Homo sapiens: one gene and its partners. The protein of the gene in region 1 purifies or fractionates together with the protein of each later gene. This does not show direct contact. Each region holds a gene or a part of one and is shown in the gene's direction. Other genes may lie near its edges. The genes, in order: KRT86, ARMC9, IFFO1, ITPRID2, SCCPDH, OFD1 and ERGIC1.

The links.
Region 2: the proteins of KRT86 (region 1) and ARMC9 purify together in Homo sapiens (co-immunoprecipitation; one large-scale study listed by IntAct). This does not show direct contact.
Region 3: the proteins of KRT86 (region 1) and IFFO1 purify together in Homo sapiens (affinity purification with mass spectrometry; one large-scale study listed by BioGRID and IntAct). This does not show direct contact.
Region 4: the proteins of KRT86 (region 1) and ITPRID2 purify together in Homo sapiens (affinity purification with mass spectrometry; one large-scale study listed by BioGRID and IntAct). This does not show direct contact.
Region 5: the proteins of KRT86 (region 1) and SCCPDH purify together in Homo sapiens (affinity purification with mass spectrometry; one large-scale study listed by BioGRID and IntAct). This does not show direct contact.
Region 6: the proteins of KRT86 (region 1) and OFD1 purify together in Homo sapiens (affinity purification with mass spectrometry; one large-scale study listed by BioGRID and IntAct). This does not show direct contact.
Region 7: the proteins of KRT86 (region 1) and ERGIC1 purify together in Homo sapiens (affinity purification with mass spectrometry; one large-scale study listed by BioGRID and IntAct). This does not show direct contact.

Annotation. Positions count from the first base shown.
Region 1 is NC_000012.12:52,298,231-52,302,586, forward strand, and holds part of KRT86 (keratin, type II cuticular Hb6), read left to right. Parts: intron 1-3,584; coding exon of another isoform or gene 3,585-3,686; coding exon 3,687-4,055; intron 4,056-4,356.
Region 2 is NC_000002.12:231,204,881-231,209,236, forward strand, and holds part of ARMC9 (lisH domain-containing protein ARMC9), read left to right. Parts: intron 1-1,317; 5' UTR 1,318-1,358; coding exon 1,359-1,409; intron 1,410-3,246; coding exon 3,247-3,372; intron 3,373-4,356. UniProt on the Homo sapiens protein: Involved in ciliogenesis. It is required for appropriate acetylation and polyglutamylation of ciliary microtubules, and regulation of cilium length. Acts as a positive regulator of hedgehog (Hh)signaling.
Region 3 is NC_000012.12:6,545,854-6,550,209, reverse strand, and holds part of IFFO1 (non-homologous end joining factor IFFO1), read left to right. Parts: intron 1-313; coding exon 314-454; intron 455-725; coding exon 726-734; intron 735-1,360; coding exon 1,361-1,542; intron 1,543-1,664; coding exon 1,665-1,785; coding exon of another isoform or gene 1,786-2,049; coding exon 2,050-2,145; intron 2,146-4,356. UniProt on the Homo sapiens protein: Nuclear matrix protein involved in the immobilization of broken DNA ends and the suppression of chromosome translocation during DNA double-strand breaks (DSBs).
Region 4 is NC_000002.12:181,922,543-181,926,898, forward strand, and holds part of ITPRID2 (protein ITPRID2), read left to right. Parts: intron 1-4,356.
Region 5 is NC_000001.11:246,726,968-246,731,323, forward strand, and holds part of SCCPDH (saccharopine dehydrogenase-like oxidoreductase), read left to right. Parts: coding exon 1-37; intron 38-4,356.
Region 6 is NC_000023.11:13,737,497-13,741,852, forward strand, and holds part of OFD1 (centriole and centriolar satellite protein OFD1), read left to right. Parts: intron 1-1,349; coding exon 1,350-1,418; intron 1,419-1,505; coding exon 1,506-1,536; intron 1,537-1,547; exon of another isoform or gene 1,548-2,717; intron 2,718-4,356. UniProt on the Homo sapiens protein: Component of the centrioles controlling mother and daughter centrioles length. Recruits to the centriole IFT88 and centriole distal appendage-specific proteins including CEP164. Involved in the biogenesis of the cilium, a centriole-associated function.
Region 7 is NC_000005.10:172,931,751-172,936,106, forward strand, and holds part of ERGIC1 (endoplasmic reticulum-Golgi intermediate compartment protein 1), read left to right. Parts: intron 1-685; coding exon 686-786; intron 787-3,437; coding exon 3,438-3,560; intron 3,561-4,356. UniProt on the Homo sapiens protein: Possible role in transport between endoplasmic reticulum and Golgi.

The DNA of each region.
Region 1 (4,356 bases):
GTTTTGGGGTTCTTTTCGAGGACAAATGGAGTAACCATGGCCAAACTTCTCAGATCCTCTGCCCCTTGGACTGGCTCCCACTGTAGAATATAGTAGATAACATTTATTGAGCATTTTCTATGTGCCAGCTGCTGTTAAACATTGTCCATGCATTATTTCATTTAATCCTTCTACAAGTTCTTTAAGATAAGGCGGTTAATGAAAACTGGACACAGATGGCTTAGGCATGTGGATGAGTATATCCCATCAATGCTGTTGATACGTCTGCAGCAGCAGCATCAGCAGCAACAACAACAACAACTAATATGATTACACACTTAGAGTGTGCCAGGCTTAGTTCTCAGTGATTTACATGGATTAACTCTTTTAATCTTTACAACTTTATGAGGTGGGTACTATTATTATCTTCATTTTAGAAATCATGAAATGAGGTACATAGAGGCTAAGTAATTGCCTGAGTTTACACAGCTAGAGAGTGGCAGAGCTAGAATTCGAAACGAGGCAGTTTGGAATCTGAGTCTGTGTGCTTAACTAATATGCCATGTATTCAAACTTTTTATTTATTTATTTATTTATTTTAATGTTTTCTTTTTATGGGTACATAATAGTTATACATGTTTATGGGCTACATAAGATATTTTGAGATAAGCATAAACTGTGTACTGATCAAATCAGAGTACTTGGAATATCCATCACCTCAAACATTTATTATTTCTTTGTGTTGGGATCATTCCAAGCCTACTCCTTTAGTTATTTTGAAATACACAATAAATGATTAACTATAGTCATTCTATTGTGCTACTGAACACTAGATCTCATTTCTGTTATCTAACTGTATTTTTGTACTCATTAACACGTCTTTATCTTCCCCTCCCCATTACCCTTCCCAGCCTCTGGTAACCATCATTCTACTCTCTATCTGATGAGATCAATTTTTTTAGCTCTCGCATATGTGTAAGAACATCTGAAATTTGTCTTTCTGTACCTCAATTATTTTCCCTAACATAATGTCCTCCAGTTCCATCCATGTTGTTGCAAATGACAGGATTTCATTCCTTTTTATGGCTGAATAATATTCCATTGTGTATCTGTAACATACTTTCTTTATTCATCCATTGATGGACACTTAGTTTGATTCCAAATCTTGGCTATTGTGAATAGCGCTGCAATAAACGTGGGAGTGCAGACATCTCTTTGATATAAGAATTTTCTTTCTTTTGGATGTATACCTAGTAGTGGGATTGCTGGATCACCTGGTGGTTCTATTTTTAGCTTTTGGAGGACACTCCATACTGTTTTCCATAGTGGCTGTAGTAACTTACATCCCACTAGCAGTGTACAAGTGTTCCCCTTTCTCCACATCCTTGCCAGCATCCATAATTTTTTTGTCTTTTTGATAAAAGTCATTTTAATTGGGTTGAGATGATAATCTTATTGTGGTATTGATTTGTATTTCTTTGATGATATGTTGAGCATTTTCAATATACCTGTTGGTCATGTATATGTCTTCTTTTGAGAAATGTCTATTCAGATCTTTTGCCCATTTTAAAATCAGATTATTTGGTTTACTTGCTATTGAGTTGTTTGAGTTCCTTATATATTGCAGCTACGAATTCCTTGTCAGTTGAATAGTTTGCAAATATTTCTTCCATTCTGTAGGTCATTTCTTCAACTTGTTGATTGTTTCCTTTGGTGTGCAGAAGTTCTTTTAGCTCGATGTGATCCCATTTGCCCATTTTTTGCTTTGGTTGCCTTTGGTTTTGAGGTCTCAATCAAGAAATCTTTGTCCAGGTCAATGCCCTAAGCATTTCCTCAATGTTTTCTTCTAGTAGTTTCATAGTCTGAGGTCTTATATTTAAGTCTTTAATCCATTTTAATTTGGTTTTTGTATACAGTGAGAAATAGATATTTCAACTTTTCTGCTGCAACTATAATAAGAAATAATTTTACATGGTGACTGAGTATGCACATACATATACATAGGCCATACAACTGAAACAAAAAGGGCATGTAACAAGTTATTCCCATGACATAAGGTGCAATCTGCTATTTTCTGGTCTATTCTACTCTATTTGATTTTCTCATAATCAATTTCATTAAAATAAAATTCTGGTTGGTTCAATTAGTGGGTCAGAACATGAATTCTGAATAAACACTGCCCCTGAGCCCACCGCTTCCTAATGATTGTAATGAAGCCCATCTGCTCTGTGCTCTGGAGTCCACTGAGCATGTACACATTTCTGTAACTCTAAGGCAGTAGTAGGAGGGAAAGCCTTAACCTATTTCCCAGGAGAGTCAAGTGCCTTCCCCTAGATCACACAGGGGTACTCAGGGCAGAGCCTTGGTTCCTACCCAGCCTTTGTGAGTTTAAGACCCACACTATTCACACTGGATGGATGGCACATACAAATATAGATCTGTTCTCTGGCACCTGCCAAGGGTACTGACAAACTTCTGTGCAGGAGTTTCAAGGAGTATAGTGCAGAAAGCAGCAGGGACTCAGGGGATGATGGCAGGGGCTGGATGCTCTCCTCATGTGGCTCTATTTGATCTCATATTCTGAGCCAGATACTGTATAGATGCATAACAGTGGTGCTCATCCCAGACCTTCTAGGCCCTGGAGGTTACACAGAGGCCTGAGAGGACATCCAGACATTCAATCCTTGTCTAGGGCCTTGTGGGAGGTAATTGTGCTTTCCTGGGGCCAGTGGGCTAGTGTGTGCTCCTGAGGCCGCATGGGACACTCTGAGGGAGGGAATGCCTCCTCTCAGCCGAGGCTGGCCAATATGACCTAATAAGGTGGCCTGAGGACTAGTCTACATGCTAGTTGAATGTGCAGGTGAGGACCTGTGAGTGTGTGTGTGTGTGTGAGATGGTGGGTAGAAAGGCCAGCATGTGAAAGCATTGTGTGTGTGAGTGTGTATGTGAAAGAGAGAGGGGGGGTTGTGAGTAGGAAGGCCAGCATGTGAGTGCATTGTGTGTGAGTTTGTGTGTGTATGTGTGTGTGCACCAGAGAGTGGGAGAGAGAGAGAGAAAAAAACATGTTGATAGGTATAGATAAGGGATTTGGGAGTAGGTGTGGAGGAACTGGGTCCCTGAGAAGGTGACTAAGTTAGAGATTCTGTAAACGTGGGTCTTTTGGGGTGCAGAAACAGGTCATCTAGTTCGGAGAAACCACCAAGCGCCCCCCAAGTTCCACATCAAGGGATTCCCCCTCCCAACATTCCTGGCTAGTCCTATGAGCACCGCGGACAGCGGCATTGACCATGTCAAACCCCGCAGGACAGAAAGAGCAGCAGCCCCGCCCCTTCCCTTCCATTCCAACCTGAGTCACTGCCCACTCCTTCGTCCAACGTCAGTTTCCTCAACTGTGTATTGGGAGGTTGAGGTGGGTGTGCGGGACGTGAGTTGGTCCTTTGAAGAAGAAAACTGCAGTTTAGGGCAAGAGATCATAACATCTGGCTGCTTCTGGGCACCAATTAAGTACATTAAGTGGGGAGCGACAGCAGCTAAACAACCCAAGCCCATAAAGCCTTCTAATTGCTCCGACCCACGTGGTCACAGTCTCCCCACTTATATAAAAGGCCTACAGAGGTGCAAGTAGTGAACGCCTGACGCCCCGACCACTGTGCTCTCCATTCGGACGTCTCCATCCTCAGAACCTCCTCTCTTCCCCAAAAAGCACCATGACTTGTGGATCTTACTGTGGTGGCCGCGCCTTCAGCTGCATCTCGGCCTGCGGGCCCCGGCCCGGCCGCTGCTGCATCACCGCCGCCCCCTACCGTGGCATCTCCTGCTACCGCGGCCTCACCGGGGGCTTCGGCAGCCACAGCGTGTGCGGAGGCTTTCGGGCCGGCTCCTGCGGACGCAGCTTCGGCTACCGCTCCGGGGGCGTGTGCGGGCCCAGTCCCCCATGCATCACCACCGTGTCGGTCAACGAGAGCCTCCTCACGCCCCTCAACCTGGAGATCGACCCCAACGCGCAGTGCGTGAAGCAGGAGGAGAAGGAGCAGATCAAGTCCCTCAACAGCAGGTTCGCGGCCTTCATCGACAAGGTGGGTGTCCTGGATCACACCCTTCCTGAACCCCCACCACCTACACAGCCAGGGCCGGGCACTAAGGATGGAGTCAGAGGCACAAAGACCTCTGCCTGCCTGAGATCCCAGTCTGATGGGCGAGGCACACAGACACACAGACAGACAGACACATGCACAGACACACACACACAGGCACTCAAGATGCAGACTCAGCTGACAGTTCAGATAGAGGGAGCTTGTGAAGGAAAAGTGTGGCCAGGCTGCTCTGGGGCACAAGCTAGACATCAGGGAGTTGGGGGAGGGGGGCATGTGACCACTG
Region 2 (4,356 bases), on another chromosome or scaffold:
TGTCAGAGGCCAAGTTGTCTAGGGCTTTGGGAGTTGAGCCTAAGGAGCCTGGCCTTCATCTGGAGGGCGCTGGAACCACAGGAGGGTCCCAAGCAGGAGGGGAATGCTCACTTGTTAAAAGTGTAGAAATTGGATTGAAGTGGAGAGAAAGGAGGTGGGGAGGCAGTGGCAGAAAAATGTAAGGTTACAGACTCAGAAGAGATCTGACTGAGTGTGGTGGCTCACGCCTATAATCCCAGCATTTTGGGAGGCCAAGGCGGGAGGATTGCATTACCCAGGAGTTTGGCAGCTTAGTAAGACCCTGTCTCCCTGTCTCTACTTAAAAAAAAAAAAAAAAAAATTACCTGGGTATGGTGGCATGCACCTATAGTTCTAGCCACTGGGGAGGCTGAGGAGGGAGGATCCCTTGAACCCAGGAGTTTTAGCTTGCAGTGAGCTATGATTGCACCATTGCACTCCATCCTGGGCAACGGAGTGAGATCCCATCTCAAAAAAAAAATTCGATGAGTTCTGACACATTCTGAATTTTATAGATGAAGAAAGGCTCTGCACTTCAGTGAGTTGTCTCAGATCAGGTGCCAGTGAATGGCATGGTTAACATTAGAGCCCAGACCTTTTCATTCCTCTGGGGTTACGGGCAACTGCTTTGGGCTGAGCCTGGGGTGTGGGCCATGGGGAATGACTGCTTTGGGTACACCTTGAGGGAGGGCTAGTAGAAAGAGTAGGAAGAGTTTCTTTTGACTTTAGCCATTGTATTTCCTAGTGCCGCTGAACAAATGACCATAAACTGAGTGGTGTCAAGCAACAAAGATTTAATATCTTCTAGTTCTGGAGGTCAGAAGTCTGAAATGGCTTTCACTGAGCTGAAGTCAAGGTGTCTGCAGTGCTGGATCATTTCTGGATGCAGTGGGAGGATCTATTCCTTGCCTTATGCAGTTTTTAGAGGCTCCTTACCCTCCTTGTCTTATGCCACTTTATCCCCTTTAAAGCCTGCAGTGGCTGTTGAGTCTTTCTCACATCTCATCATGCTGGCACTGACCCTCTTGCCTCCGTCTGCCCCCCTCCCTCTGCTGTGACTGCCTTGGGCCCACCTGGGTAATCCAGGATCATCCCCCAATTTAAAGGTCAGCTGATGAGCAACCTTAATTCCATCTGCACCTTAATTCCCCCTTGCCGTGTAACCTCACGTATTCACAGGTTCTGGGGATTGGCGCATGGATGTCTTTGGGGGCCATTATTCTGCTCACCACAACCACCTTTTTGTAGTTTCATAGGTGGTTGAAATGAAAGCTGTTGTCTTGTATTTTTGCCTTCTAGAGATTTTTGCTGTGAGAATTAATTACCAGTAACAGTTCAATATGGGGGACATTCTGGCTCATGAATCTGAATTACTTGGACTAGTGAAAGAGGTAGGTATATTATACAAAGCAGAGGTCACAGAGAAACAGATCTTGAAAACTTGTGTTTTAAAATGCAACAAACTATTTAGTGCCTTGTAATGTTTCTTCTATTGTTATGTTGGAGCTATTTTTCTATTATATAATATTCCATGTATTTACATTTTGGTTTTATAACTAAACAAATCTTAAAGCCACTTAAAAAGTCCCTTGAAAGAAAATTATAAAAGCAATACACGTCCACGGTAAAAGATTCAAGCACTACAGAAGTATAAAAAGGAAATTTCCCTCCCAGACTTTTTTCTATGTATAGTAAAAATATATTCACATGCCTGTAGTTTGTTTTACAGAATGGGATGATACATTGTTCTGTAGCTTGCTTTTTATCTGCCAACAATAATATAGCATGAACATCTGCCTATGATCGGCCCTAGACATTTGAATGCCATAGAGTATTTCATTGAGTGGCTGCATCATAATTTTTTTAACTCATTGTCTGGTAATGGCCTAGGTTTCCTACGCTAAAAGCTTTGACAAGTAGGGCCCAGGCCTTAAACTTTCTGGTGCTAAAGAAATGGTTCGCGCTTGCTGCTGCTTAACTGTGTGAGTAACCACCTGCAGGTTGCGAGAGCCACGGGCCTGGAGCAGGGATGAGGCACCCACCGTGCAACTGCAGATTTGGAATTTGGTGGTGTGATGGCGAATATATTCTTTTTTAAAAAATTTACATTTAAAAATCTTTTTAGAGACAAGGTCTTGTTCTGCCGCCTAGGCTGGAGTGCAGTGGCATCATCATGGTTCACTGTAGCCTTGAACTCCTGGGCTCAAGCAATCTGCCTGCCTCAGCCTCCTGGGTAGCTGAGACTACAGACGTGCACCACCATGCTCAGCTAGGTTTTATTCTAATTTTTGTAGAGATAGGATCTCACTCTGTTGTCCAAGCTGGTCTTGAACTCTTGGCTTCAAGCAATCCTCCTGCCTCAGCCTCCCAAAGTTGTGGGATTGCAGGCATGAGCCACTGCACCCTACCTATATAACACATTTTCTTTTAAAAATTTATTTATTTGAGATGGGGTCTCGCTTTGTTGCCCAGGCTGGTCTCAAAGTCCTAGGCTCAAGCGATCCTCCTACCTCAGCCTCCCAAAGTGTTGGGATTACAGGCATGAGCCATGCCACCTGGCCTATACCATTTTTTCTTTTTTTTTTCTTTTTTTTTGAGATGGAGTCTCACTCTGTCGCCCAGGCAGGAGTACAGTGGTGCTTTCTCTGCTCACTGCAACCTCCACCTCCTGGGCTCAAGCGATTCTCCTGCCTCAGCCTCCCGAGTAGCTGGGACTACAGGCACGCGCCACTGCGCCTGGCTAATTTTTGTATTTTCAGTAGAGACGGGGTTTCACCTTGCTGGCCAGGCTGGTCTCGAATTCCTGACCTCGTGATCCACCCGCCTTGGCCTCCCAAAGTGCTGGGATTACAGGCTTGAGTCACGGCTCCTGGCCGGTAGTTCTATTTTTATTTTTTTGAGGAACCTCCATACAGTTTTCTATAATGGCCGTACCAATTTACAGTCTCACCAAGAGTGCACAAGTGTTTCCTTTTCTCCACATCCTTGCCAAGACTTTTTATCTTTCGTCTTTTTTGTAATAGCCATTCTGACAGGTGTGAGGTAATTAGGTCTCTGTGGTTTTGATTTGCATTTCTCTGATTGTTAGTGATGTTAAGCACCTTTTCATGTATCTGTTGGTCTTTTTAATGTCTTCTTTGGATAAATATCTATTCAGATCCTTTGGCTGTTTTTTAATTGGATTATTTGTTTGTTTTGCTGTTGAATTGAATTATTTATTTTTTATAGTATTTAGATTTTGCTGAATTTGAAGACACCTTGAAAACATTTTCAAAAGAATGCAAAATAAAAGGAAAACCATTGTGTAAAACAGTAGGCGGATCTTTCAGAGACTCCAAATCATTGACAATTCAGGTAACATTTTGCTTATTTTTCATCCCTGTAGATAATTCAGGATGCTCCCAACTTGTGGAAAATGCTGCTGTTGGATAGTGCTAGAATAGTTTTTGAGCACTTGCTCAGAGTTACTTTAGATGGCACAAGTGTTTATAGATGAACTAATAATGTCATTTTAAATCTCTGTACCCTCCCCAGGAAATGTGTGGCCATATAAGATCTTTCACAAACATTTCTTGGGAAGAAGGAAAAGAAGAAACCATGCAGTGTTTAGGAACTGAGACAATTGTAGCCTTCCTCCTGAGGAGTTTCAGGTTATTAATTCTAGGCACTGGGGATCCAGCAGTGAACAAACAAAATCCAGCCCCTTGCCAGCACAGCATTTGCATTCTAGCTTGGGGAGGTTGGAGGGAACAGGGAGCAAGAGTGAGACTGACAAGGCGGGTCTGTGAAAGGAAGTCTGAATAGCTCTGTGAATACCAGTGGGCTGCAGGGGCACAGAGGTTATACAGACCTCAACTCTCAGGGTTAGAAGGGACCTTAAAAATCCTTGACTAGGCATGGTGGCTGAATCCTGTAATCCCAGCACTTTGGGAGGCTGAGGCAGGAGGACCGCATAAACCCAGGAGTTCAAGACCAGCCTGTGCAACACAGTAGGACCTCGTTTCTTTTTCTTTTTTTTTGAGATGGAGTCTCTCGCTCTGTCGCCCAGGCTGGAGTGCGGTGGTACGATCTCGGCTCATCACCACCTCTGCCTCCAGGATTCAAGCGATTCTCCTGCCTCACCCTCCCTAGTAGCTAGGATTACAGGCACGTGCTACTGCGTCTGGCTAATTTTTGTATTTTTAGTAGAGACGGGGTTTCACTACATTGGCCAGGCTAGTCTTGAACTCCTGACCTCAAGTGATCCGCCCGCCTTGGCCTCCCAAAAGTGCTGAGGTTACAGATGTGAGCCACCATGCCCAGCCAGAACCTCGTTTCTATAAAAAATAAAAAATTGGC
Region 3 (4,356 bases), about 46 Mb from region 1:
GTAAGTTCTAGGAGGATGAGGACCGCTAGTCGTTCCAGTGAGCCCCCTGCATGTCCCAGGCACTGGCCATGCCCTCCAGGGCTTCCGTTTGGCCAGGGAGCAGTGGCCCGAGCCGCCCCATGCCCAGCATATTCACACAGTGCTGTGGGGAGGCCACCGCTACCCAGGAAGAGGGGTGCAGTCAGCTCAGGGAGACTCCACAGAAGAGGCACCGGTGCAATGTGGTGGGAAGGATGAGGACCTTGCCAGGCCTAATTCGTCCTTGTCTGGAGAACTGGGCGCCTCCTCACTGTTCCCTGGGCTCCCTGGACAGAACCTGTCGGAGCTGGACACCAAGATCCAGGAGAAAGCCATGAAGGTGGATATGGACATCTGCCGCCGCATCGACATCACCGCCAAGCTCTGCGATGTGGCTCAGCAGCGCAACTGCGAGGACATGATCCAGATGTTCCAGGTGAGGACGGAGCTGCCCTCTGCTCTCAGGGGTGGGTGGGGCAGGTGGATGCTTCCGTGGCGGCTGGCCTGGAACGCAGGCCCTGCCTCCTGCTTGGGGAGCCTTACCTGGCAACTGGGGCCCTCACGGGGCTAGACTGGGGGGTAAGGAGCAGCATCAGGAGGGGCATCGTGGAAGCTGTCTCTAACGCCGTCTCTCCCTTCCCCCTCTCTCTCCTCTGTCTGCTTCCTCTCCTCTCTTCCTCTCATCTTCTCTCTTGCTTCCTCCACAGAAGAAGCTGGTTAGTTTGATCTCACGCAAGCTTATTAATGTCCCAGTCCCAGTTTCTAAGCTGCCTAGGCCTCCTGGCCCTCAGTTTGGGCCCGCTGGGCTCTTGAGCACGGATTTTTTTCTGCCCTTTCCCTTTTCCTTGCTCTTCCCCCTTTTTCTCTCTATCTCTTGTTCTCTTGACTGCATTTCTTTCTCTCCCTTCTCCCCCGGCTTTCCAGATCTGGATGTGATTCAGGTTCTCTTTTGTACACATTGCACACTCATCCTCCTTGCGTCCTAAAGCTTTTTTTTTTTTAGTTGAGTCATTTAATCAAAAAGACTTTTTTTAGAAAAAAATTTCCTCTTGAGCCATCATGCACATCTGACTGCAGCCCCAGCGAGCCCTTCCTTCCTTGTCTGACTGCTCTTCTTCTCGATTTCTTCTTGTTCTGCCTTCTCGGTTTGCAGCCCTGACCCCCGCTGTGTGTCTGGCCCTTGGTGACTGTCCGTGTTTCTGTTCCTGTCATTGTAACTGTGACTTTTCTCTCTGTCTGCCCCCCCTTCCTACTGGTTCATGCTTCTCCCCCATTCCCACCCTCTCTGCCCGGCCTCCCGCTCCCGCCCTTTCTCCTCATGCACCCGGCCTCGTCTCTGTAGTCTCTGCACTTGTCTCCCATTAAGGTCCCATCCATGGGGGGGCGGAAGCGGGAGCGCAAGGCTGCCGTCGAGGAGGACACCTCCCTGTCGGAGAGTGAGGGGCCCCGCCAGCCCGATGGGGATGAGGAGGAGAGCACAGCCCTCAGCATCAACGAGGAGATGCAGCGCATGCTCAACCAGCTGTGAGTCCGCAGGCCGTGCTCCCGCAGCACCGACGCCACAGCAGCCCAGGAGGCCGGAGCTCCCCAGTCCCCCGCCAGGACGAGGCCCCGCCCGCCCTGACACCCGGGTTCCCTGTCTCTAGGAGGGAGTATGATTTTGAGGACGACTGTGACAGCCTGACTTGGGAGGAGACTGAGGAGACCCTGCTGCTTTGGGAGGATTTCTCAGGCTATGCCATGGCAGCTGCAGAGGCCCAGGGAGAGGTAACCTCTGCTCCCGGCCTCAGGGCCCTCTGGCTCTGCCTCTCCAGCCTGAAGCCCACTCCCCCGCTCCTCTCCTTGCTCTGTCCCCCCATGTGGCTGTCATCCTCTACCTGCGTCTCCCCTCTTCCTTTATCCTTTTGCTTTTCTTTCTCCAGTTTCTTTAACCAGACTTCCTCTCTCTCTCTCTCCCTGACTTGGCCCTTTGGAATGCGTCCCATCCCATCCCTCCTTGGCTGGCCTCCCCCGCTTCCCTTTCTACTCCAGCAGCAGGAAGATAGCCTGGAGAAGGTGATTAAAGATACGGAGTCCCTGTTCAAAACCCGGGAGAAGGAGTATCAGGAGACCATTGACCAGATAGAGGTAAGGGCAGGAGCGGAAGCCAGGGGCGTGGTGTCCCAGAGGGTTTTGAGTGGGGCTGCAGGCGCAGTGGCCTCATCCCTGCTGCAGGACCCTAGAGACCAAGGTCTTGGGAGGAGGAGTGATCTCTCAGCTATAGTCCTCCTGGTGGGCTCTGAAGACCTCAGGCTCTGGAAACAGACAGATATCGGTTCAAATCTCAGCTCTGTTACTTACAACCACCCTGAACTTGTAATAAGTTACTTGTTCCCTCTGAGCCCCTCCTTTCCTTTCCTTTCCTTTCCTTTCTTTCCTTCCTTCCTTCCTTCCTTTCTCTCTCTCTCTCTCTTCCCCTCCCCCTCTATCCCTCCCTCCCTCTCTCCCTTGTCTTTCTGTCCTTTCTTTTTTGAGACAAGGTCTCACTCTGTTTCACTCTGTTGCCTAGGCTGGAGTGATCCTCCCACCCCAGCCTTCTGAGTAGCTGGGCCCACAGGTGTGTGCCACCATACCCAGCTAATTTTTATTTGTATTTTTTTGTAGAGATGGTGTCTCCCTGTGTTTCCCAGGCAGGTCTTAAACTCTTGGGCTTAAGTGATCCTCCTGCCTCGGCCTCCCAAAGTACTAGAATTAGAGACATGAGCCATGTGTCCAGCCCTACACCTGTTTCTTTTTCTTTCTTTCTTTCTTTCTTTCTTTTTTTGAGACAGGGTCTTGCTCTGTCACTCCAGGCCCACTGCAGCCGTGATCTTCTGGATCCAAGCAATCCTCCTACCTCAGCCTCCCAAGTAGCTGGGACCACAGGCGTGTGCTACCACGCCCGGCTAATTTTTTGATTTTTTTTACAGAGAACAGGGTGTCACTATGTTTTCCAGGCTGCCCTCAAACTTCTGGATTCAAGCAGTCCTCCTAACTCGGCCCCACAAAGTGTTGGGATTACAGGCATGAGCCACTGTGCCGGGCCTTTTTATTTGTAAAATGAGGAATTTAATAATACCTCACCTATAGGGTTGTTTAGAAGATCAGATGAAATAATGCATATATAGAGCTTAGGGCAGTGTCTGGCTCATAGCGAGTGTAGCATAGTGGGGACTGTTTTATTATTATTAACACTATCAGTGCCATGGCACTCAGAGATGGACTGGGACTTTCCTGTTTCTTCCACTCAGCCTTTGAGATAACAGAGAAATCTCCATGCTTTTTCCCAAGCCTTGAAGTACCTTCTAGAGGTACCTAGAGGCAAGTGGAGCTGGTGCTTTAGCTCAAACTCTAGGCTTTAGGAGCTGCAAGAAGGATTTGTGGAGGCCGGGCGCGGTGGCTCACGCCTGTAATCCCAGCACTTTGGGAGGCCGAGGCGGGAAGATCACGAGGTCAGGAGATCGAGACCATCCTGGCTAACACGGTGAAACCCCGTCTCTACGAAAAATACAAAAAAAAAAAATTAGCTGGCCGTGGTGGCAGGCACCTGTAGTCCCAGCTACTCGGGAGGCTGAGGCAGGAGAATGGCGTGAACCCGGGAGGCGGAGCTTGCAGTGAGCCGAGATCGCACCACTGCACTCCAGCCTGGGCGACAGAGCAAGACTCCGTCTCAAAAATACAAACAAAGGAAGAAGGATTTGTGGAACCACAGAATGGAGGTTGCTGTTGCTGTGGGAGGAGGGATGGACGGGACCCCCGTGAGCTCTCCTGGCCTGGTGAGGTGGTCCTTTCCCGACGCTCTGACTTTGGGAGAGGCATGGAGCCTTCTCTGCGTCTCAGCCTCTCTTCAGGCCCACATGGGAGATTCATACGTAGTCCCCCCTTATCTTCAGGGCATGTGTTCCAAGACCCACAGTGGATGCCTGAAACCAAAGATAGCACTGACCTCCTGATAGCTTGGGTCCAGTTGCTGTCAACTGGAACGTGTTTCTGTTCATGTCTCCCACCCACACATTCAATGCCTTTTCTATCTTAACTAAGCACTTAGCGTGCGCTGTGGCGGTACCTTTTGCAGTTCGAGGTGTGACAGCAAAACTGGCACAAATTTCTTTTTCCTTCTTTACAATTTCACGGATAGAAGATTCATTCTTACTGTAGAGCTTACCAACCTCAGCATCGGATTCTTTTTCTTATTAAGTTGAAAACTTTTACCTTTTCACTTAAAGGGAGCATATTTTGGCTTCTCTTTCACATATCCAAATTGCCAGCATCACTACTCTTGTGCTTTGGGGCCATTATGAAGTAAAAATAAGGGTTCCT
Region 4 (4,356 bases), on another chromosome or scaffold:
TAGCTTTCCTGTTGATCAAGTTTGTGTCAATTAAGATATATTTGTAATGGCATTTCTGCAAATTTCATACTCTAATGTGAAATAATTACAATTCTCTGTGTTCAGTATGGTGAAAAAGATATGTGAAGGACTCAAAATAAACATGACGTACTCTTTGGACCTCTTGTTTCCACATCTACAAAATGAGGATTTACAGTTTAGATCTCTTCGAGGATTAAAAACTGCATTTTATAGCTGGACGTGGTGGCATGTGCCTGTAGTCCCAGCTACTCGGGAGGCTGGGGTAGGAGAATTGCTTGAACCTGGGAGGCGGAGGTTGCAGTGAGCCAAGATCATGCCATTGCACTCCAGCCTGGGCAGCAGAGCAAGACTCCATCTCAAAAAAAAAAGAAACTGCATTTTATAATTACAATTGATAGGAGAAAATGATTTTGTGATTTTAATAAGTATAAATAGATTGATTTGGTTTGGTGTTTTTTATTCAAAAATCAAAATATACGAAGAAAAGAGGGTTTGCCCTAGGTGATAGCAGCATAAGAACTTGAAGAATTACCATAGTTATGGATGACCAAAAGAACTGCAAAAGGAAATTACATATGATTAGTAGTGAAAGTTCAAAAGTTGAGAAAATTAGTAAAATAAATGTTTTTTGCACTGAGATCAGGTAATAGGAAGGAATAGAATATATCGTTTAAACAGCTCAATGCAATTATCTCTGTTTACCTAGTAGTATTCTGTGGATTAAATTGTACATAAGCAAATGTGAAATTTGCTGTATATGCAGTTCTCTAGTATTTCAATCATGTTGAATCAAATCACATTTTCAAAACAAGCATTATAGCAGAAGACTTCATATCTGTAATTTATTTTCATGATATGACTCTACCAACTAAATGTTTAAAAGGTCTTAATTCTATAAATTTATTTTTCCTACAAATGTAATTATTTTTGTAAATTGGTTTTGGCTGCCTAATGTTTAGCAAACTCAGCATTCACCCTACTCGGTCAGGTGTGTCTATGATTAATAATCCATTCCTGTTTACATGTTTTATATCAAAGATTAGTTTTTGAGTGAAATTATGTAATTATTCTTCTCCACACTATATTTGCTAACTGAGGAAGTGGGTTTTAAGGTAATTTTTTTTTTTCTAGAAATGTGATGGTTTTGTTCCCCTTAGCTTGCTTTGGTATGAAAGTTTTCTTTGAAAACTTTATATTGCTCTTTTAAAACAAATACTCCATTCAATGCACACTTGAATCCTCATTTTTAGAATTTTAATGGCCTGATATGTCCTGTAGGTGATTTCCTAAGAATAAAGTGTTCATTTCAGACTAGAACATTGATTCTTTGGCTTATAAGACACAGCATATAGAAAATTTAGTTATTCCCATTAGGCTGCCTTGGTCCTAGAGAATTAATCATTTAAAAGAACCTCTCATTAAATATGAAAGATTTTATAATTTGCAAACACTTAAGCTGGTATGCAAGGCAAATGTTCAAAGAATTTTTCAGAATTTGTTATTTAAACCATTAATTAGAAACTACTTAGTTCTGAATTTGGCATAGGCTTGAGGAAATTGGGTTTAACATTTATTCTTTTACTGTCTACAAAGGGCCTACCCAGCAAAATATGTATAGATCAAACAAGGCATAAGAGGAGTATTGTTGTACTTAAGAAAACAAATTATTTTGAAGTACTTTAAAAGCATATTTAATAGTTTAATGCCAGTTATAATTTAAAAAATTATGTTAATATTCTCTTAGTTACAATAGTTTTCTGTTTATAAAGTATTTAAAATTTAGTTTGGTTTTTATTCCAGTCATTCAAATTGGTAACCTTTTTACCTAAATACATACTGTACTAAATTCCAATTTTTTAAAATCTTGGTGTACAGCTACCAAGAAAATTAAATTAGATTCTGTCTTCCTAGCAGATCTGAGCCCCTAATCCCATTAACAAAGCCACCATTCAGGAAGGCAAGATTTAATCTTGGGTTGAACAGTTTTGCAGGTGAGGATTAAGCATGTTTGGCAGGCACTTTCAGGAAAGTTTTCTTACTGCGTTCATGGATGCATGAAAACAATGGTATCTGTCAGGCCTTTGTTTCTTTCGTTGTACCATTAAGTGAGGTTTTTAAAAAGAGGGTTTTCATCATTTATAATGTGTTAATACAGTAGAATTCTTTTTTTGAAGGACAACATTGAAAGTCTTTTCAGACAAATATTTAATACACTAATTACATAGCTAAACTTTTGTCATATTAAAGATACCTCTTTTCTGCATGTGCATTGTACTAGGAAAAAAGTACACACTGTCTTAAAATTTGCCCAAGTCATCTGTGATGTATGTGATCAGTGGCCTGAAACTGTTTGCAGTTACTTTAAAAATGTATAAATGTGTGTAAATAAAAAGATTACTTAATAGGATGAATGAATACATGCCCACAGAAGCCAATTCAGCAAAATTAAATGTCAAGGAGTAAACATAGATTGCTTTGTGTTTAGAGAGTTATTTGTTAATTAGAGTTCATAGACTTGATTCATGCCTTTTGGGATCTTTATTAGAGCACGTCTGACATGTTTTACCCATGTATTTTGGTAAATACACAGCTTGCTCATGTGTTCTTATGGAAATTTCTTTTAGTGATCACTTGTAATAGCTGCCACTTAGTAGGCACTCAGTAAGTGCATAATAAGTGGATGTGTTCCCACATACTTCAGACTTGTAGTCAGTCTTTTTGTATTGTCGATCAGCATGACTTTCTCAATCTCAGGTAGTCTGTATTTAGCCTACATTTTTTTGGAAATTATGCTCATAAAGGTAATTTTACCATCCATCCCAGGGTAGTTTCCTCACTTCTAATCCTTCCAACCTCTCCATAGCATGGGAGACTTTAGAACTAAATTATTTGTCCATGCATTTATTCATTCAATAAATTAATAAAGACATTGTATCATTTTCAGGGCCATTTTATCTGTAGTCTGCTTTCGTTTTTCTGCTTTCTCTTCCTTTTTGTGTCTGATATTGTCTCTCACCCTTGTGCTTTCTCACTCTCTCATTGATTCATTCATTCAGACGCTTACTGAGTTCTTACTGTATGCTGAGATACACTGATAAATGAGACCTGACCTGCTCGCTGAAGGAGCTCACAGTACACCTTCCATCTGACCTCACCCTTCCTATTCTGATTCCCTTCTGCTCTCTAGAGGGAACTGTCTTGGCAGTCAGGCTCCATTATACTCCCCTCTTATTTGAGACCGTCTTGCTACAGAGTTTTCTATCTCCACTGTCATCTGAAATTGTTCTTTCTTTGTTGTGACATACCATGTAAAAGCTGCCATTCTCTGAGAATTTTGTCCCACACTAGTCTCTCATTTATCAAAATTTTTTGTTCTTATGTCATTAATGAATCAATAAATTATTTTTCCTTTAGTATTTTATGAAACCGACGAGGTGTGGTGGCTCACGCCTGTAATCACAGCACTTTGGGAGGCCGAGGTGGGCGGATCACCTGAGGTCAGGAGTTCGAGACCAGCCTGGCCAACATGGTGAAACCCCATCTCTACTAAAAATACAAAAATTAGCCAGGTGTGGTGGTAATCCCAGCTATGCAGGAGGCTGAGGCAGGAGAATTACTTGAACGTGGGAGGCAGAGGTTGCAGTGAGCCGAGATTGCGCCCCTACACTCCACTCTGGATGACACAGCAAGACTCTGTCACAAAAATAAATAAATAAGAAATATATTTTATGAAACAGTATTCATTTTGTGTCCATTGAGATTATATCATGCTTGATGGTAGGGATTCTTTTATACTTTATTCCAATAATGCCTGTACTCCCAAAAAAGATTGGCACACATTCCTGGTTTGTCAAGAATACATTTTGGCGACTGGGCGCGGTGGCTCACGCCTGTAATCCCAGCACTTTGGGAGGCCAAGGCGGGTGGATCACAAGGTCAGGAGATCGAGACCATCTTGGCTAACATGGTGAAACCCCGTCTCTACTAAAAATACAAAAAATTAGCCGGGCGTGGTGGCGGGTGCCTGTAGTCCCAGCTACTCAGGAGGCTGAAGCAGGAGAATGGCGTGAACCCAGGAGGCGGAGCTTGCAGTGAGCCGATATTGTACCGCTGCACTCCAACCTGGGTGACAGAGTGAGAATCCATCTCAAAAAAAAAAAAAAAAAAGAGAATACATTTTGGCTAGTTTGTTTTTTGAGTGATGAAGAATAATGAGATATAATAAAATGGCCATATTGCATTGGTAGCAGGACTGGAAAGACTATACTCATTGTTGTGAATATAGATTTGCAGTGGTCCTAATTCAGTATGTTGTATTTCTGTTTATATACTGTG
Region 5 (4,356 bases), on another chromosome or scaffold:
TAAACAGGCAACAGTTGTCCTCAATTGCGTAGGACCAGTAAGTAATCAACCCTTCTTTGTATCAGAACAAACAATCCATTCATTTCTAGCAAAATATTCCAGAGGAACATAAGGACAGAGGACAGAATTGTTGGTTGAAGGCCTTAACCCCATATGGGGAGTTTTTTCTTCTTGCGAGGAGCAGCTGGAGATGACCAAAGTCTCCTGAGAGAGTGAGTGACAGGCTCTCCATGACGTTCTCCTTAGGGCATGTGTGCTGGCTTGTTGATTGGTTACATCTGTGATTGTCAGAATTTTCTTTCCTTTTTACTATATACCCCTTCGGTAAAAAATGTTTGAGTGTGTCTCCCTAGTATATTTTTTATTTATAAATTATATTCTTGTACTACTGGGTAAATATATTTTTTAAATGCACAAAAAGAAGACTAAAAAACGACTCATTTATTGAATAAATATTTATTGATGCTTACCACATGTGAAATGCACTATTGTAGGCACCTGGGACACAATGGTGAACAAAACAGAAAATCCCTCGTGGACATTACGTTCTTGGGGAAGACAGAAAAATAGGATTGTAATAGGAGGTAATGAAAAGTGCTTTGAAGAAAAGTGAAGCCAAGAAAGGAGAAAAGGTCCTGGCATATTGGTGTTTTTAGATGGATGGTCAGGGAAGGTTTCTGTGAGGAATTGACATTTGAGCCAAGATCTGAATGAAATGAGAGCAAATTGCATGAACCTTTTGAGGAGAGACTTTTCCAGGGACAGCAGGCACAAAGGTCCTGAGATGCCAGTGTGCTTGGCAAGACTGAAGAGTGTGACAGAGGCCAGTGTGGCTGGGCATGGCAGAGAGGTGGAGAGTGGATCAGAGAGCAACCCGGGAGCTGGGTCATGTGGGATCTTACGGGCCATGGCCAGGATGTGGATTTTTTTTCCAGGTGTGACCAAGAGGCGTTGAATGGTTGAAAGGAAGGGCTTCAGCTGATTTAAATTGGAAGTTCTTTGGCTTCTGAGTGGAAAAGTAGATAACAAAGGATGAGCAATGGAATGGTGCAAGCACAAGCCCTGGGGTCGTAGTGGTGCTGAGAAGTAGTTAGGTCCAGAGTATATTTTCAAAGGAGAACGGCTTTTGCTGTTGTACTGTGAAAAAGTCATCAAGTCACAGGCCATCAGACTTTTGGCCTGTGTAACAAGGTGAATGTTGGTGACATTTAGTGATCTGAAGAAGCCATCACAGTTGGCAAGATGTTTAAAAATTAAATATCTAAAATATTAATAATTTTTAATTGAGAGCAAAAGGGTTTTTGAATTGCTATTAAATAGAAGTGTTGTTGATTTAGATTCATCTCATTCTTAACTAGCTTAGATTCCATCCATGAGGTCCACTGCTGCACTCTATAATGGACGCCCTCATCTATCTCCCTTGCCTTTTTCTCCTCAGTACTCTGGAAAAATCCCAGCCCTGGTTATTCTCTGCCTGCTCTTCACCTGAACATGAGTAACACAGTGTGGCTGGAGAAAAATGTATCCCCCTGCTAACTGGTCACACTTCAAATATGTGTTTACAAACGTTGTGTGGTGCTTAGCACCTCCGGCAGCTCTGCTCTATTTCCCTCAGGAATTCTCTCTCCTGCTCTCTGAAGCAGCTCACAACCTTGTTTTCCTTGAACTTTTAGTATCCCGTCTCTCTTTCCTTGTTCTTATCTGATTTTATTTTTCTTTTTTTTTAACTATGAAAATAGAAGCTGGTTAATAACAGAATTTCTTTCTTCATCTTCCTACCACCAGATCTATCTACCTACCTACCTGTCTGCCAATCTGCATCATACCCTGTAGTCTGCCATATCTCTTGTTACAAGGAAAAACTGGTCCTCTTCCTATTGGGCACAGTTTTCAAAGACTTTATTATCGGGGGAACCAGCCCCCAGTATTTCAACATAGGTTCTTTTCTATTTTCCCTAAGTGTCAGCCAGTCTGAGAAATAAAGAGAAAGAGTACAAAGAGAAATTTTACAGCTGGGCCTCTGGGGGTGACATCACTTGTTGACAGGTTCCGTGGTGCCCCTTGAGCTGCAAAACCAGCAAGTTTTTATTAGGGATTTCAAAAGGGGAGGGAGTGTACAAATAGGGAGTGGGTCACAGAGATCACATGCTTCAAAAGGCAATACGGTATCACAATGCAAATGGCAGAGCAAGATCACAAGGCCAGGGCAAAATTAGAATTACTGATGAGGTTCCATGTCCCGCTGGGCACGCACTGTCATTGATAAACATCTTAACAGGAAACAGGGTACGAGAGCAGACAACCAGTTTGACTAGAATTTGCCAGACTGGAATTTCCTAATCCTAGCAAGCCTGAGGGTGCTGCAGGAGACCAGGGTGTATTTCATCCCTTATCTTCAACTGCATAAGACAGACACTCCCAGAGCGGCCATTTTAGAGACCTCCCCCTGGGAATGCATTCCTTTCCCAGGGTTATTCCTTGCTGGGAAAAGAATTCAGTGATATTTCTCCTATTCGCTTTCTGCAAGAAGAGAAATATGACTCTCTTCTGCCCAGTCGCGCAGGCAGTCAGACATTATGGTTATCTCCCTTGTTCCCTGAAAATTGCTGTTATCCTCTTCCTTTTTTAGGATGCCCAGATTTCATATTGTTCAAAGACACATGTTTTACAGTTTGTACGGATAACTCAATCATCACAGGGTCCTGAGGCAACATACATCCTCAGCTTACAAAGATGACAGGATTAAGAGATTAAAGACAGGCATAGGAAATTATAACAGTATTGATTGGGGAAGTGATAAATGTCCATGAAATCTTCACAATTTATGTCCAGAGATTGCAGTAAAGACAGGTGTAAGAAATTATAAAAGTATTAATTTGGGGAACTAATAAATGTCCATGAAATCTTCACAGTTTATGTTCTTCTGCCGTGGCTTCAGCTGGTCCCTCTGTTCGGGGTCCCTGACTTCCTGTAACACTTTATGTTTACAATTACACATTATCTTGTTATCAAATTTCTCCTCTTTACTGGATTATTTCAATCAGCATTTAAATATGTGATATCTCCCATATTTTAAAAAAAGCTGCTTGATTCCACATACCCTTCCAACTACTCTACTTTTTGTGCCCCCTTTTTAGCAGCCTCCTTGGAAGAATTCTCATGACTCACTATCTCTGCTTCTTCACCTCCTACTCTATCTTAAACGCCTCCTATTGGGCTTTTGTTTTCCTCCCTCCTCCAATGAAACTACTCTGCTAAAGTCCCACCCTGTCAAATCCAGTCTTCATCTGAAAGCTTGCAGCATTCGATCCAGCTGACCACTTTCTCCTTTCTTTGCTCAGCTTCTACGTTGTCATCTTCTCGTAGTTTTCCTCCTGTCCACCAGCTTCACCCTGGAAGTCCTCGTCTCCTCCACTGCGTCTTTGTCCTCCCCACTCTAAATGCTTGAGGCCTCAGCGTTTAAGCTTTAGAACCTCAATAACCTCATTCAGGCATTAGGTTGCAGTAAAGTGAAAACGACTGAATGAATGAAGAGTGGTGCTGAGGCCCTCTCTGTGTGATGGAAACTTTCCCACAACCCCATCAGGATACCTGCTGTGTCCTGTCTTCAACACATGACCACTTAACATGGCCCAGGGAATGTCTCGTAGTCAGTCCATATAGTAACCGTTAACGGAACGTCATGTTTTTGTAAACATTAACATGGATAAAAGTTCTGATATTTACTTCCACCCTCAGTGGATCATTCTGCGCTTCCCTTAGGGGAAGACTACTTGGGAGACCACTGGGTTAGAAGATGGAACTTTGAGGGCCAGGCGCGGTGGGTCATGCCTGGAATCCCAAACCTCTGGGAGGCTGAGGTGGGCAGATCACTTGAGGTCGGGAGTTTGAGACCAGCCTGGCCAACATGGTGAAACCCTGTCTCTACTAAAAATACAAAAAATTAGCTGGGCATGGTGGTACACACTTGTAATTGCAGCTACTCGGGAGGCTGACGCAAGAGAATCACTTGAATCCGGGAGGCGGAGGTTACAGTGAGCTGAGATTGCGCCATTGTATTCAAGCCTGGGCAGCAAGAATGAAACTCCAGCTCAAAAAGAAAAAAGAAGAAGATGAGACATGGAGAGCAGGATTGCGGTTCTGACCTTTGAGCCAATTGGCCTCACAGGGGAGAAGTGTCTCCCCGAGATGAAGGATTGCTACTCTGACTGTTCACCTGTCTCAGACAAGCACAGGGTACTAAGTGGAGAAAAATCTAGCAAGTTCATAAAATAGGAATAAGTTAGTGAGAAGTCTCAACTCCAGATTACTCAAAGAAGTGGGCCAGATGTGACAAAATGCAGTAAAAGTAAGGAA
Region 6 (4,356 bases), on another chromosome or scaffold:
CACTGTCAACATCTTGCATCAAGGTGGTACATTTGCTACAATCTATAAGCCTACCCTGACATGTCATTATCACCCAGAGGCCATAGTTTACAGTGAAGGTTGCAGTGAGCCGAGATCATGCCACTGCACTCCAGCCTGGGTGACAGAGCGAGACTGTCTCAAAAATAAAATAAATTTCACTCTTGGTGGTGTTCATATGTTTTTACTTTCTTTGTGTTTTCTGTAATTATCCAAAAGTTTCATATTCCAAAGTTTTAGTGACACAAGCTTAGTACAGTATTTGAATGAAAACTTAAATAATTTGCATTTCTTCATAAGCAACCAAATTTTATTTGTCAGCATTAGGAATTTATTTATTAATTTATGTTTTTGAGACAGAGTCTTGCTCTGTTACCCAGTCTGGAGTGCAATGGCGCAGTCTTGGCTCACTGCAACCTCTGCCTCCTGTGTTCAAGCAATTCTCCTGCCTCAGCCTCCCAAGTAGCTGGGATTACAGGTGCCCACCACTACACCTGGCTAACTTTTTTATTTTTAGTAGAGAGGAGGTTTCACCATGTTGGCCAGGCTGGTCTCGAATCCTGACCCCAGGTGATCTGCCCACCTCAATCTCCCAAAGAGCTGGGATAACAAGCATGAGCCCTCGTGTCTGGCCTGGAATTCATTTTTGATACATCATTCTCTAACTTTCTAATCACTTTATACTTTTACTTATTGTGTAATAGTCAATAATACAATTATATAGCAGGAATTAATCCTATTCATACAACTTAACGGTTTCTACTAATGTAAAATGCCCATGCAGAATATTTACTTTAAAGGAAAACCAATTGAAAACAAATATCAGTGTTCTCAGAGCAGACATAGTGAATGGTATATACTGTAGTAGAAATATATTTTAATAGCTACCCAAAATGTCTGTTAAACAATATTTTAAGTACACTTTAATTACGGTTTTAAGGACAGTAAAAATCTATTTACATTTTTAAACAATGAATACTTTTTAAAAAATTGTAATTGAATGACCCAGGAACTCAGTCATGTAGTCATTGGTTCATCAGATATTTCAGTGTCATCTGTAAGGCATTAAACATTTAGGCATATCATCTTTGATGTGAAGTACTTAGAAGTTAATTAGATGATAAAGATATTTTATCCTTTTGACCTTGATATGTTTATAGTAATTTATTTAACAGTGTAAGAAAGAGCTTGAAATTTGCTTTATTAGCATAGTTATAATCTTATTTAATCTGAAGGATGTTTCTTAATTTCATATTCAGAAACATATCCTAATTTATCATTTAAACACTGATATAAAAATATGTCTACTTAGTAACCTATTTTTTCTTAAGGTATTTACTATGCAGGATCTATTACAACTCATTAAAATCAACCCTACTTCCAGTCTCTACAAATCACTGGTAAGATGGCTTAGTTTCTGTAATCTACTTTGGTTTGTTAATTATAACTGAATAGCTGAATAAAAGTGAAATATTTTCTTTTAACAGGTTTCAGGATCTGATAAAGAAAATCAAAAAGGTAGGAGCCGTCATCTTTGTAGAGAACAGCAACAGTTTTCTATGTACTTTTTCCTCTAAAAGAATGAAGCAAATTTTTAGGGAGAAGAGTAAAATTTAATTTGATTTAAATTATTTGATTTCTGCAGGTCATTTCCCCTATATTTCCATTTTTGTAATAACTTTTAGATATTCAATTAAAAAAACTGTAGACAGTATCAAAGGCCCTACAGACAGGCTGAAAGATACTGTTTGTAAAAATACCCACTGTTGGGAATATTTCTGCAAAAAAAAAAAAAAAAAACTAATAACTTTTAGGCCAAGTGTCTTTGTATACTAGGTATCCCTCTCAAGTATAATTGGTAGGGTATTAGATGTATTAATATTTCCTTAAAGAATGAGAGTTGTGTTCAGTAATGTGTTATATATCTTTTGTTCTTAAATGTTTATACAGGCCGGGCGTGGTGGCTCATGCCTGTAATCCCAGCACTTTGGGAGGCTGAGGCGGGTGGATCACCTGAGGTCGGGAGTTCGAGATCAGCCTGACCAACCTGGAGAAACCCCGTTTCTACTAAAAATACAAAAAAATTAGCTAGGCGTAGTGGCGCATGCTTGTAATCACAGCTACTCAGGAGGCTGAGGCAGGAGAATCGCTTGAACCCGGAAGGCAGAGGTTGCGGTGAGCTGAGATCACGCCATTGCACTCCTGCCTGGGCAACAAGAGCAAAACTCCGTCTCAAAAAAAAAAAAAATGTTTATATAGACCTAATAAATTGCCTTAATTTTGGCCTTGATAATAGCCATTCATAGAGTCCATAACTACTGTGGGTTTCAGGCCATTGGTTAGACTTGATGATGGGCTTTGTAGCATGAACATAAGCTGGCAACTTGGCTTTGATGCATAGTTATTCTTTAGGTCTTTTAAAATAATCTGTTAGTAATAGTCCTTTTGTGTTGGTACACCCTTGGATTTTGTCTGTTGCCTGCACTATCATCCCCACAAGGACATTCATTTATTCATCCATTCATTCGCCAATTCATTTAGAACTTAATCATTTGAATACTTATTTTCTGCCAGCCATTAAGTCTGTGACTTAATCGCCAAGTCTCTTGGTAGTAATGTTAGCAGAATATAAATAAATTGGAGCACAAGATATTCTGGACTGCCCGCAAACTAGACCATCTCTACTGAAGTTCAGTATGGTAAATGATCCTATATTCTGTACTCTAAGTGTCGTCCAGTGTGACTCTCTGTGATTATGGAAATGTCTGTGTCTATGCTGTTTAATGTGGTAGCTGCTATCCTCATGTGGCTTTTGAGCCTTGAAATGTGGCTAGTGTGACTGGATAACTGAATTTTTAATTTACATTTAATTAGCTACACTTGCATAGTGACTACCATATTAGCATAATTCTGAGGTATATAGCTAGTATCTTTTGCTTAACTATTACTTCAAAAGGAAATTTGTGGCTTGAAGGGATATTAAGAAATAATCTATGGGCCAGGCACGGTGGCTCATGCTTGTAATCCCAGCACTTTGGGAGGGCAAACCTGGCTGATCACTTGAGGTCAGGGGTTCAAGACCAGCCTGGCCAACATGGTGAAACCCCATCTCTACTAAAAATACAAAAATTAGCCAGGCGTGGTGGTGAGTGCCTGTAATCCCAGCTACTTGGGAGGCTGAGGCAGGAGAATCGCTTGAACCAGAGAGGCGAAGGTTGCGGTGAGCCAAGATAGCGCCACTGCACTCCAGCCTGGGTGACAGAGCTGGACTCCATCTCAAAAAAAAAAAAAAAATCTATGTAGTTACTATAGATACATTATCCTTAAAAGTAGTTTTTCCATGGCCGGGCGCAGTGGCTCACGCCTGTAATCCCAGCACTTTGGGAGGCTGAGGCGGGCGGATCACGAGGTCGGGAGAGCAAGACCATCCTGGCCAACATGGTGAAACCCCGTCTCTACTAAAATACAAAAAAAAGTTAGCCAGGCCTGGTGGCGTGCACCTGTAGTCCCAGCTATTTGGGAGGCTGAGGCAGGGGAATCGCTTGAACCCAGGAGGCAGAGGTTACAGTGAGCCAAGATCACGCCACTGCGCTCCAGCCTAGCGACAGAGCAAGACTCCGTCTCAAAAAAAAAAAAATAGTTTTTACACAGTCTCTTTAAATGCATCTGGTTCAGAAAGACATCTGGCCGACAGCCCTTACCAGCTTCACCTAGCATCCCAGTAAAATTTCTGGAAGCCAGAAAAACTATGAGTAGCAGATAGGTCAGGCATCCTAGTGCCAAAATTTGGATAGAACTCTTAGCTAACAAAATAGCTCCTGGTAAGATAAAATTTTTTTAAAAATTGGTGTCTTCTAATTAAGTAACAGAAAACATGTAGGAAGATATTGTGTACTTAACCGTTGTCTGTCCCCTGACTCAGACCTATGGTCTTATCCTACCATATCTATGCTCAGGGGGTGCTAAGCTGTTGAATGGCCTTGGTACTTTTCCTCCTAGATTCTAGTCACCCATTCTTCCCACTGCTAATTTTCCTTTCAGAGATAATGATATCTGTTATGCGTGTCTGTGTGAAGAGACCACCAAACAGGCTTTGTGTGAGGAACAAGGCTGTTTATTCACTTGGGTGCAAGTGGGTTGAGTCCGAAAAGAGAGTCAGTGAAGGGAGATAGGAGAGGGGCAGCTTTATAGGGCTTGAGTAGGCAGTGGAAAGTTACAGTTAAAGGTGGTTATTTATTGTTAGCAGGGGAGGGGGTCCCAAGGTGCATGGTGGAGAGATCTTGGGACTCATTGTCCAGAAGAAGAATGTCACAAGGTCGATTGATCAGTTGGGGCAGG
Region 7 (4,356 bases), on another chromosome or scaffold:
TGGATACAGAGTGTCTCCTCCTCCCCCAATCCATGGACACATGTGTATCCTGTCCCATGACTTGGTTCTTTTCCCTGTTGGAGAATAGCTGCTCCTAGCACCCACACTTTTTTTTTTTTTTTTTTTGAGACAGAGTCTTGCTCTATCGCCCAGGCTGGAGTGCAGTGGCATGACCTTAGCTCACTGCAACCTCCGCCTCCCAGGTTCAAGCGATTCTCCTGCCTCAGCCTCCTGAGTAGCTGGGATTACAGGCACCTGCCACCACGCCTGGCTAATTTTTGAATTTTTAGTAGAGACGGGGTTTCACCATCTTGGGCAGGCTGGTCTCGAACTCCTGACTGCAGATGATCCACCCACCTCGGCCTCCCAAAGTGCTGGGATTACAGGCGTGAGCCACCACGCCTGGCCAACACTCACTCTTTCATGGTTGCTCTATTGATGGACATTTGGGTTGTTTCCAGAATTTTAATGATGTGCACAGTGCAGGAGGAAAGATCCTGATGGATAGAGTCTCCCAATTCCCGGTATCCAAGGGGAGAAGATGAAGAGCAGTTGGTTGGTGGTAAAACTGGGGAATGAGCCCCCTGCCGTGCCCAGGGAATTTAGGCTTAGGATTGAAATGACATAGAGCTGTCAGCGGGCAGTGCCCGTCCCCCTGCTTCATTCTGCTGTGTCCTTCCCGCAGCCCTGGCCTCCCACGACTACATCCTGAAGATTGTGCCCACGGTTTATGAGGACAAGAGTGGCAAGCAGCGGTACTCCTACCAGTACACGGTGGCCAACAAGGTGCGCGGGCGGTGGCTGGGCCGAGCTGTGTGCGGCGGCGCCCTCTGCTGACGGAGAGCAGAGATGACAGGCGGCTGCACCGACGCACTTTCTTCTGATTCCTTTCTGGAGGCCTTTCCTGGGGGTTAGCTTGGGCCAGGCGCTGTCCCTGGGTAAAATTGAAAAGCCCAGTCCCTGCCATGTGGCAGTCTCAGAGTCAAGGAGAACAGATCTAACCAGGAGATAGGGTGTGATGCGTTTGACAAAGAGCAGGTAGTCTCTGTCCTACAAAGGTCCTGGGGTTGCAGGTCTCAAACAGCCCTGCATCTGGTCCGAGTCCTTCAGACACAGACCCCTGGGTGCTCAACACAGACAGACACTCCTGCTCTCAGGGCACAGGCACTTTACCCAAACTCATGAGGCTACTGAGTCACACCAAGATGGCTGTTGATTAATTTGCTGTTGATTGACAGGGGTGTCCCCAGGACCCCAACACTCAAAGTCATGGAGAAGACGCCAGGCCTTAGTGGGCAGCAGAGCATGGTCAGAGTCTGCAGAGTGGGATGACCCAGCAATTAGTGGTCTCAAGACAAGACAGCCTTGGGCTTCCCTGGGGGTATCCCACCAATGGGACATGAATACTTGAAACCTGTTGGTTGAAATGCCCCTGCTAGACCCTGGCGGATGGGTTTTTCCCACTTACCACCAGGACTGTCCTTTTTCTTCTGTTCCAAGGCTGCCCAAACCCCTTATAAGTGATACCTGTTTAGCTCAGTTAATTATAACAACAGTAGGAGGCATAGCTGTCACTCATTGAGTACTTCCTGGGGGCTAGACATGCTAAGCTCTCTTCTTCCGTCTTCTCAATCATCATGACAGCTCTGATGTTGAGACTGTTATTGAGCCCATTTTGTTGATTTGACCATTGAGGCACTGAGAGGTGGTTGTAGAGCTATAAAGTGGCTGAGTGGGGATTAGAACAGGTTTTCCTTGGGCTCCAGAGCCTGGCTTCTTGATCACCTCACGCCTCGGTCTGAGGAAGGGGCTGTGAGTCTGCCCACCTGCGAGCTGCTCTCTGTCCAATGACTTAGTCCCTCTGTTCTGACTCACCCTAAATTGATGTTCCCGGGAGCCCCTGTTTCTTTTATTCACTGTTTCACAGGGGGCATCTCATTGTAACCCTCACATGCTCATAGCAGCTAACAGATGGAAAAGCACAGATGCAAGCTCAGGACCACGCTGCAGTTCAAATTCCAGCTCAGTCATTCACTAGCTATTGACCCCGGACATGTCACATAGCCACTGTGTGCCTCAGTTTACTCATTCATAAAATGGAGATGATACTTTATAAGAGTGCTGTCACATGAGGCAATGTTTTCAAAAATGCCTAGCCCACCAAAAAAAAAAAGCCTTTAGGTAAGTGATACTGACTGCTGCTATTTTTCACTCTTTTTCTCTGTCCCTCAGCTCTGGGTTGTGACCCAGACAGTCATCCTGCCCCAGCAGCTCTCCTGGAGAAAGCTGGTCTTCCCTTGCACAAAGCTCCTTTTCCCAATGCTTTGGCAAGGCCCAGCAGCCAAATACAGCTTGCTTAGCTTCTCTATGGCTGCAGCCGCACTCTGCCCTGGGAGCAGGCAGCAGCGACCCAGCGGGAGGTCAGGGCTCAGTGTTACTTACCCCCGGAGTGGCCTGGGCTCCTCAGGCTCAGCATGTGGGGTTGGGGGTACCCCAGTGGTTCAATTTGGCCTCCAGTTGTTGCAGACTTTAGCACCTTGAAGTGCCCAAACTGGAGAGATCCCAGGGATCATCATCCCAGGCCCATCCGTGTTTAGATGGGGAAGCCAAGTCCCTGAGGGAGGGAGGGGCTGGCCCAAGGATGCACTGTTAGCTCAGCCTCGTAGTATCCTTAGTCCCTGCTGTGTGCATTCTCAGGAAGGTTGGTGGCAGGGCGGGGCCTTCTGGCTTTGCAGTTCAGTCTATTCCTCTGAAGAAGCTAGCCCACTCCCCACGTGGCATTTACACCCATCACACACACACACACACTGGGACTCCTGCTTATTCATCATGTGTGGCTCAGAATGTCCCCTCCCCAGTCTCCCAGATGCCGCCCGGGAGAATGGGTCATTCATTCATTCCCCTCAACTCTCCATGTTCCTCCATCCCACATGCATGATGTCACAGTGTTAGGGATATTCTTATGTCTTCCTCCTTCTGCAGACTGCGACTCCCTCTGGGTAAAGGGCAGGACTTGCTCACCTCGGGGTCCCCAGCAGCCAGCCATGGGCCACCACAGTGGAGGCGTTCAGCAAACCATTGTTGAATAAATGAATGGATTTCGCGTGGCCCAGAGGTTGAAGGAGGCAATAGCCAAAAATTGCACTTTTCCTTTTACAGCTCTGCTTTCTAATTTATTTTCTGATTCTGGTGCTGCTTGCAGCTCACTTGGTCAATTTCTAAACAACCAAGGGTATCAAAAATGCCCAGCTGTGCACGGCAGAGTTCAGGGCCTCCAGGGGAAGGGATGTGAGAGAGGGAGTGGGGGAGTCTGGCTTCGTGGGGCAGAGAGGGAGGAAAGCCCTTTCTGGAGGGTTGCTGGGGGGCCCTCTGCAATCCAGTCCCCGCCCCCCCTGAGACACAGTTTGTACTTCTGATTCTTATATCCTCTACCCCAGGAATACGTCGCCTACAGCCACACGGGCCGCATCATCCCTGCAATCTGGTTCCGCTACGACCTCAGCCCCATCACGGTCAAGTACACAGAGAGACGGCAGCCGCTGTACAGATTCATCACCACGGTGAGTGGCCTGGGGCAGTGGGTGGGGCCCTGAGCCAGCCACCCTGCGCCTGCTCTGGGCCCCTTTCCTTGGCACCCCTCACCTGTTCTCGCTGAAACAGGAGGCAGCCTGCAGGGCTAGGGGCTCTGGCTGGGCACAGGAGGCTTCGACCCCAAGGATGCTGAGAAATGTTGTCAGAAACACATCAGTATCGATGACGTTTTGTCTAGAAAGTATTTTCCAGAGGGGAATGCCCTGAAATCCATTTAATTCCTGAAGCAAATCTCCATATGGTTCCACTAGATGTTTAGGATTTTCTCCAGCTTTTTATTGTTATGGAAATTATTCTTAGCAGAGTTTATCCTTTAATGTGTAAATTTTGCACCAAAGATTGAACTCATTTTTTTTTCCAGGTCTAATTTCCAGTTATAGCTGCTGATAGGGTCCGATTTTTCCCTTTCCTTCCTCTCTGTTCTCTCTTTTTTGCCATGGTCTCTACCACATCCAGTTTTCTCTAGGGCAGATTCAAGCTGATGTTAGTTTTCCTTTATGCTGATTATTTCTATCATGTCTACTGTTTCCTGGCCTCCCATTCAGAAGGTCCTTAGGGTCAGAACAGGAGGGTCAGGGTGCCCTTCTTCACCCAAGAGGCCCAGGAGGTACTGAAGAAGCCAGAGTTAGCTGAGGTGGAAGAGACAGGGTGGCTATCCCTACTTCACAGATTTGGAAACTGAGACCTAAAGATAAATATGGCATTGGGAGGCCCTTATGCTTCTGTACTTCTTCATGCTTGTAATGATGGTTCAAGATCAAGGGC